2 linked regions of the Homo sapiens genome follow. The protein of the gene in region 1 purifies or fractionates together with the protein of each later gene. This does not show direct contact. Each region holds a gene or a part of one and is shown in the gene's direction. Other genes may lie near its edges.

Region 1 (3,818 bases):
CTGTGGCAGCATCCTGCTAGCACAGAAACCCTCTGCAGAGGTGGTCTGGTAGTTTCTTTTGCCATTGCTTTCATTATCCTAAAAAGAAGCCTTGAGTTCTCACACAAGTTAATTTTAAAGTGCAATTGATTGGGTTCCACTTGATTCTTCGTAATACACCTCCAGGGAGGCTCCCAGAGGCTCAGCTCCTCAGGGTTTCTGACTGTTCTTCCAAATTAGTCTTGTGTTTTCATTTTGTCTGTGTTGGTGCAGTTCAATGGGCCCAGACCCTAAGAGTGTTTAAGTGCTATTGAGTTATCAGTTTTCAAATCAAGGTTTTGAATAAAACGAGTATCTTTGCATTTCAAAATGCAACCGTGTAAGTCATCTTTTAACGAAAGGGCATTATGCACATATTAAATGCATGCTAATGTAACTTTAACAATATTAGTACAAATGGTTTTGGGAAAGAGTCACCTTTTGCTTCCTCTGCCAAGAGACTGTTAGATTCATTTTCAAATGTTTTTGTTTTTGTTTTTTAAATTCTTTTTTTAAATGAATGAAGCAAACTCATCAATCCATCATTGGCTGTTTTGTTCCAGGGATGACAACGGGCAGTAGGTAGGTTGGTATCCCCTTTTGATGAAGAAAATTTGGGTTTTCCTAGCGGGTTAATGCAGTGTGTCATTTAAACAAAATATTAACTTGGTTGGTACTCCCTGTGAGCTGGCATGGTTGCTATGTAACAGAATCTAGAAAGTGAACTGCTGAAAATCTGGGCTTTCGGCACTTCGGAGGATATTCTTTCGGAATCTGTGTTGAAAGAATTCCTGGCAGCCAGCCCATCTTGTCTCTCCCTCCTGCAACTGAGTTGGATAATCCTTAATGAGAATGCTGGCGTACAGTGCAGAGGGCGTCCGTGCAGGGTGACACATTTCAGAGCTCCAGAGGCTGCCTTTTGGGTCGGTGGGGTCACGGCAGCCTTTGACAGGTGGACAGAAGGAGGCTTGGAAAGAACAGAGCCAAGCATTTGTTCCAATTCATCTTGTTGTTGGTAGCCAGAGAAGGGATTTGTTTAAAGTAACATTTCTAAGCTGTTTTCCTCAGCATAACATCTCTGGGAAAATGTGTTTAAAATGCTTGCTGTTCTTTGAGGGGAAAATGTAGCAGTTTGTTTCTCTGAAAAAGTTTTATCAGCTGATGAATGACTAATATTAGATTCAGTTGGTTGCTTTGCTATGCATAGAACAAAACAATTAAGTGCTATGGTACCCAATTCAAATAGGTGTTAACTGTATATAACAAAATACTTAATGCCCAGTAGGATGTATGCCTACTGTCATTAGTTTTCTTTGTTAAAGAAATAATTGTATTTGTATTCCTATGCAAGTGGACGTGCTGATAGCATCTTTCTTTGGTGTGGAGGACTTCCTGCCTACTGCATTTGTTAGAAGGGGATGGAGGCAAGGGTCGGTTTCCTGTACCTTTGTACATTTCCATAAATGCGTGCAAGTTGTATTTTTCTCTCCAGGCATTAAAATAGGCTGTTACTTAAGGCCTGACAGCTCTCATCTACCATTACTACAACACTGGAAACTCTTTCGTGAAGTATAAATTACCTTTGGAGTGAATTGAATGTGTGAGTAGTCTGTGGAGACGCTAGACACTGTCGCTTTGCAAAGTAAGTTCTGTCTTTTGGCATCCCCTTCTCAATTCATTCTGCCTCTGCTCTTGTTTTCCTAAGTAGACTTTTATCTTTTTTGAGAAAGAGAATTTTCAAATGGCAGAGAGGATGGAACAAAATGTTGGGGAATCTCGGGCCTTCTGTTAGCTTGCCACTAAGTTACAGAGCTCAGCAAGTAGCCTGCGCCATGGTTTTCCAGCCAGATCAAGGGGTTAAAATAGAGTGTGTCTTTTCCTAACCTGTCATGGGATGGGGATTCAGTCTTCTCCCTGAAAATTGTCATGTGTGGTCACAAAGAGATTACTTACAGATCAGTACAGTGTGGTTGAAATTACTTATTGATTGGGGATTATTTACTATCTTTCCATTGTCTTTGGAAAATGCCTTCAAAGGACCTCTTAAGTCAAGTCTCTGATTCTGGTTAATTTCATGCTTCCATTGTGCACTTCATGATTTTTAGTGGTTTTCCAACACCTCTTTGATGCACCCCAGAAGTCTGAGCTGACCTGACTCATCTAACAGGAGCCTGGTCACATATCTTTCCAGGGTAAGGCATGATAGGCCCTCTCTCCATCCCTTTACCCTCTTACTCCTCAAGAAGACTGTTGGCACTTTTTAGGAATCCTATAGGGTTATAATGTGTGACTTCCTGGCTGCCAGTGTGTTTGTAGCAGATGGGCTTGGCAGGTGGCAAGAGCTCATTGGAACTTTGCCTGCTCACCGTGCATATCATATGGGGCCCAGAAGGTCAAGCTTGGGATTTGGCCACATTCACTGCATGTTTTCTTTATGTATTATAAATCTATATATTCATTCCTGGGCTATGTAGGTAAGGACAGTGAAATCAACACGAACTCCTCTGTTCTTTCCATACCTTAATGGTTTGCCTGAACATTGGTCCCTGGCTTCTTACCCCCTGCCATATATCAGGGGGTTCTGCCTGCTGAGCCCAGAGAATGGGTTTTTAAGTGATGTTGCACGTGGAAATAGGTCTCAGTGTTTGGGCTGCATATTAGGGTGAGTAGCACAAAATATGGCAGGAGTGTCACCGCCAGCAGTCATTGCACTGCCTTGGTGCCTTGAATTGCAGGCATAGTGGGTTCAGAAAGAATGATTTAGGAAAAGACATCTTTCCCGAAGCCAACAGGGTGGCCATCCACAGGGGCAGATCATACCTGACGATTCATAGCAGCTAAGAGTTCTGCTGACCCCTGTCACCACTCTCCAGTTCCCCTGCCACCACCCTCCAAATCCCCTGCCAGGCCCATCTCAGTTGTGGAGAAGCTGGAAGAAGATCAGGGAAAGGAACGCCTTCTTCCTCCCCGTGTGGTTGCACGACACCAGAACATTCTTGCTTGTTTGATGCAACCTTGATCCAAGTGGTGGAGGCGAGGTTGTGCTCTGTGGGCACTCCTGCTACCCCCTTGGAGTCCTAGGCTGCTGGAAACATGAAAGAAGCTGAACATAGTTTTAATGAGTTTGGCAAGAACAACTGTTTGAGCAGGTGGCTGCTGTGTGGTACAAGATCATTGGGGCTAAATTTATTCTGCGGGCTTTGTTGGCTGGGTCATGTCAGACCCTTGGGTCAGGCTTCTGAAAGGTCCCTGCCCCTTTACTTTCTGATGAATTGAGACCTCAGCACAGGAGCTCAGATGGAGCTTGGAACAGGCAGTCCTGCAAGCAAAGAGCCCCAGGGCCTCTGCCCACTTCTCCAGTCAGGCTGGAGAGGGGAGAGAAGTTGGGGAGAGGAGGTGTCCTGCCCAGCTCCCTTCTCCTCTGTCCTCTTCCACCACAGCAAGCGCTATGTTACCTTTGTGGGGATGTAAAGGCCTTCCATTCCCAATATTACCTCTGCTCTACAGATTGTGTGAAGTAATGAGTCATTAAGAACAGAGCGCCCCTTTTAAAGAAGCTGATATTCTCCACTCATCTTTGCATACCTCACTATTATTATTCTCAGAACTTACCTTTTGGGCATGCCACAAGACGCTGGGGATTCTGGGACCATCTTGAAGCCTGTAGTTTCTTTCTCTTTGGTCAAGGTGAATAGTTTAATGTAGCAGTAAATGAGAACTGGTTTCATTGCTTTGGTCAAACTTTTTAATAAATAATAATATGCACTTACAATATATCAACTTCCCTGGCAAGCGCTTAA
Region 2 (3,818 bases), on another chromosome or scaffold:
GAGCAGGGCATGAGGAAGGGAAGAGTTTTCTGAGACAACATGTGAAAGGCAGGAGATGGGAGAGAGATTGTAGTGTTCTTAGAGACCATGTAGTAACAGTATTGCTTCAGTGCTCAACAGTGCTCAATGAAGACAGTGTCAGAAGCAAGTAGGGGGCATTAGATTCTGTGATCTTCTATGCTTTATGTGAAGGAGTTAAATTTTATCCTATACTTGTAGGGATGCCATTGAAAAATTTGAGCAGTAGAGTGACATGGTGTGATTTCCATATTGGGAGGATTGCTCTGGGTAATGTAAAGGAGAGGCTGGAATAGAGAGGGATAAAGGCAGGGAGGCTGGTGAGTGCCACTAGGAGAGGAACAGGATCAGGTTTGTTGTAGTTGAGGGGAATTGCAGTGAATTGAGGCGTGAACCACTCTTAGAAGCCTAAGGTTATGGGGCCGGGCATGGTGGCTCACGCCTGTAATCCCAGCAATGGGAGGCCGAGGCGGCTGGATCACAAGGTCATGAAATCTCCTGGTTAACACGGTGAAACCTGTCTCTACAAAAAAAAATACAAAAAATTAGCCAGGCATGGTGGCACGCGCCTGTAGTCCCAGCTACTTGGGAAGGTGAGGCAGGAGAATCACTTGAACCCAGGAGGCAGAGGTTGCAGTGAGTTGAGGCCACGCCACTGCACTCCAGCCTGAGCGACAGAGCAAGACTCCATCTCAAAAAAAAAAAAAAAAAAAGCCTAAGGTTGTAAAAGGAAGCAATGCTTTGGGAAGGTAGAGGATTGAAGGGGAGATTCAGGATCAGGGTTCTTAAAAAAATCTTTTTTTGCCTAATAAGTGGCCTTGAAGAAGTTTATATGCATATGCTGATTAGAAAGATTCAATAGAGGCCGGGCGTGGTGGCTCATGCCTGTAATCCCAGCACTTTGGGAGGCTGAGGCGGACAGATCACCTGAGGTCAGGAGTTCAAGACCAGCCTGGCCAACATGGTGAAACCCCGTCTCAACTAAAAATACGAAAATTAGCTGGGTGTGGTGGCACACGCCTGTAATCCCAACAACTTGGAAGGCTGAAGCAGGAGAATCGTTTGAACCCGGGAGGCGGAGGTTGCAGTGAGCCAAGATCGTGCCATTGCAGTCCAGCCTGGGTGATGAGCAAAACTCCATTTCAACAACAACAAAAAAGAAAGATCCAATAGATAGACTTGAAGATAGAAGAAAGTGTAAATACAGGGGAAAATGATGAAACAAATCCCCGAGGAGGCATGAAAAGAAGTTATTCTGAGCACAAATAATTGGTTTAGCCTTGGATAAGAAGAGGAGGAGTTGTGAGAAGGGGTCATGGAACTAAGGATGCAGTCAGATGATTTTGTGAAGGAGCCAGAAACCTTGAGATTATCCCCAGTAGCCTCGGCTTGCTCTGTGACTTGGGAGAGAACAGGTGAGGAGGACAGGTGTTAAGTTGTAGTAGCCTCATCTGCACCCTAGAGTTTTCTCAGATGGTGCAGCCTAGGGGCAGGGATGGAGGAGCTGAGACTTCGATTATTCTCTGGGTTTTTTGCCAGATGATTTGAGGAGGCGGGTGGAGGATCTGCATGTGTCCTTTTCCTAGGTTTTGAATTCCTGATGCTGTAACCACATTATTTTATCTTCTATTTTGATGAGTATGCAGCTTTGCATTGCAGTGGCTGTGTAAACACTGAATTTTGTTTTGCTTCTTGACCATTTATTTTTCCTACCAGGATAGTAATGATGACACTGAAGATGTTTCACTGTTTGATGCGGAAGAGGAGACGACTAATAGACCAAGAAAAGCCAAAATCAGGTAGGAGGAGAGAAGTTGCATGAGCTGTGTTAGTGTCCAGTGCTGTTCTGTATGTATGTCAGTGCTAGCTGATGGGAGTCAAGGCAGAGTTGTTTCAATGTGCTTGTGAATACTGCATGTTGCTAATTTGACGTTTAGTGTACGACAAAGATGACATTTCAGATTTTCTTGTGAATAATTGGCATACTTAATACTGAGTTTTAAAATCAGCAAATCCAATTATTTGAACACCTGTGTTTTTAATTCTGTGCTATTTTCCAAGAATGTACCATTTCTTTATATAGTTTCTATAGATACATTACATTTTGATTTATTGTGCACATTTCAAAATCACATAACATTTCTATTCTAAATTTAATTCTCTCTAAAGAAATTCACTTACTGAAAGCAAATTCTACTTGAACCCTGCTAAAATGCTGTCTTTTACTTTTCTTTCATCTTTCATGCCAGTCACAAAAGACCACATATTGTATGATTTCATTTATATGAAATGTCCAGAATAGGCAAATCTGTAGAGACAGAAGATAGATTAGCTGTTGCTAGAAGCTGAGGGGTTTGAAGGTAAATGGGGAATGACTGCCAGTGGGTACAAAGATTCTGTCTGGGGTAATGAAAAGTTGTAAAATTGGAGTGATGGTTGTACAAATCTGTGAATGTACTAAAAACCATTAGATTGTTTACCTTAAATAAGTAAATTGTATGATATGTGAATTATATCTCAAAAAAGCTATTAAAAAACAAGAAACAGGCTGGGCACGATGGCTCATGCCTGTAATCCCAGCACTTTGGGAGGCCGAGGCAGGTGGATCACGAGGTCAGGAGATTGAGATCATCCTGGCTAACATGGTGAAACCCCATCTCTACTAAAAATACAAAAAATTAGCCGGGCGTGGTGGCAGGCGCCTGTAGTCCCAGCTACTTGGGAGGCTGAGGCAGGACAATGGCGTGAACCCAGGAGGTGAAGTTTGCAGTGAGCCGAGATTGTGCCACCAAACTCCAGCCTGGGCGACGGAGCGAGACTCCGTCTCAAAAAAAAAAAAAAAAGAAAAGAAAGAAAGAAACAAACTACCTGATAACTTTGTCTTAATGTCTGAGTGATTTCTGAGGGCTAAGGAATTCTTTTGGTGTGATTTGAAAATAGGATTCAAATTCTAAGATACAGTTTCCTTATTTCTCCAAGAGAGATAAAATTCTTTATTATCTATTTTGTGAAAGTTTATATTCAATGAGGTGTTAAAGTCATCTGTGCATAGTGTATTTTCTGTAACTACAGGGCCTAGTCAAATAGTGGGGCTTAAGAAAAAGAGAGCTAGGAGGTTTGCTTCATCCTACTAAAGTCACCTCTTTTATTTTGACAAAACTCTTCACAGTTACACGATGGCTAAAACATTTTTCTCTACATTTGCTAGTACCTGTAGTAAAATGTAATTGCATTTCTTTCATTGTGTTTTGGTTTTCAGACATCCAGTAGCATCGTTTTTCCACTTATTCTTTCGAGTCAGTGCAATCATCGTCTATCTTCTCTGTGGGTTGCTCAGCAGCAGCTTTATTACCTGTATGGTGACAATTATCTTGTTGTTGTCGTGTGACTTTTGGGCAGTGAAGGTAATTTTGATTGTTTTTATTTTAAAATTATATTTAATATGAAAATGATGTATAAAAATATGAGTTAGCATTTTGCATTATTGTTAATCTTTTGTTACTTCAAACCTCATCTGTGTTGAAGTGCTAGATATATCAAATTGCATGTAGTTTTTTTTTTTTTTTTTTTTTTTTTCATTTTTTCCCTTTGACAATACAAGATGAGACATGCAGGTTACTGTGCTGCTGATTTTTCTGTGCCATATTCTAACCTACATCAGCTTTAAAGTCAAATAAACAAACAAAAGTGACTAGCAACCATAGACCCTACAATGTTGCTTCTAATCCATACCATGGGTTTTGCTTCAGGCTTACCTGTAGGTGTGTTGTATATAATTTCTAGATAAGGCCCCAGTGTAG

Evidence for each region.
Region 2: the proteins of KAZN (region 1) and TVP23B fractionate together in Homo sapiens (co-fractionation; one large-scale study listed by BioGRID). This does not show direct contact.

What each region holds. Positions count from the first base shown.
Region 1 is NC_000001.11:14,601,495-14,605,312, forward strand, and holds part of KAZN (kazrin), read left to right. Parts: intron 1-3,818. UniProt on the Homo sapiens protein: Component of the cornified envelope of keratinocytes. May be involved in the interplay between adherens junctions and desmosomes. The function in the nucleus is not known.
Region 2 is NC_000017.11:18,787,619-18,791,436, forward strand, and holds part of TVP23B (Golgi apparatus membrane protein TVP23 homolog B), read left to right. Parts: intron 1-1,416; exon of another isoform or gene 1,417-1,433; intron 1,434-1,734; coding exon 1,735-1,817; intron 1,818-3,277; coding exon 3,278-3,422; intron 3,423-3,818.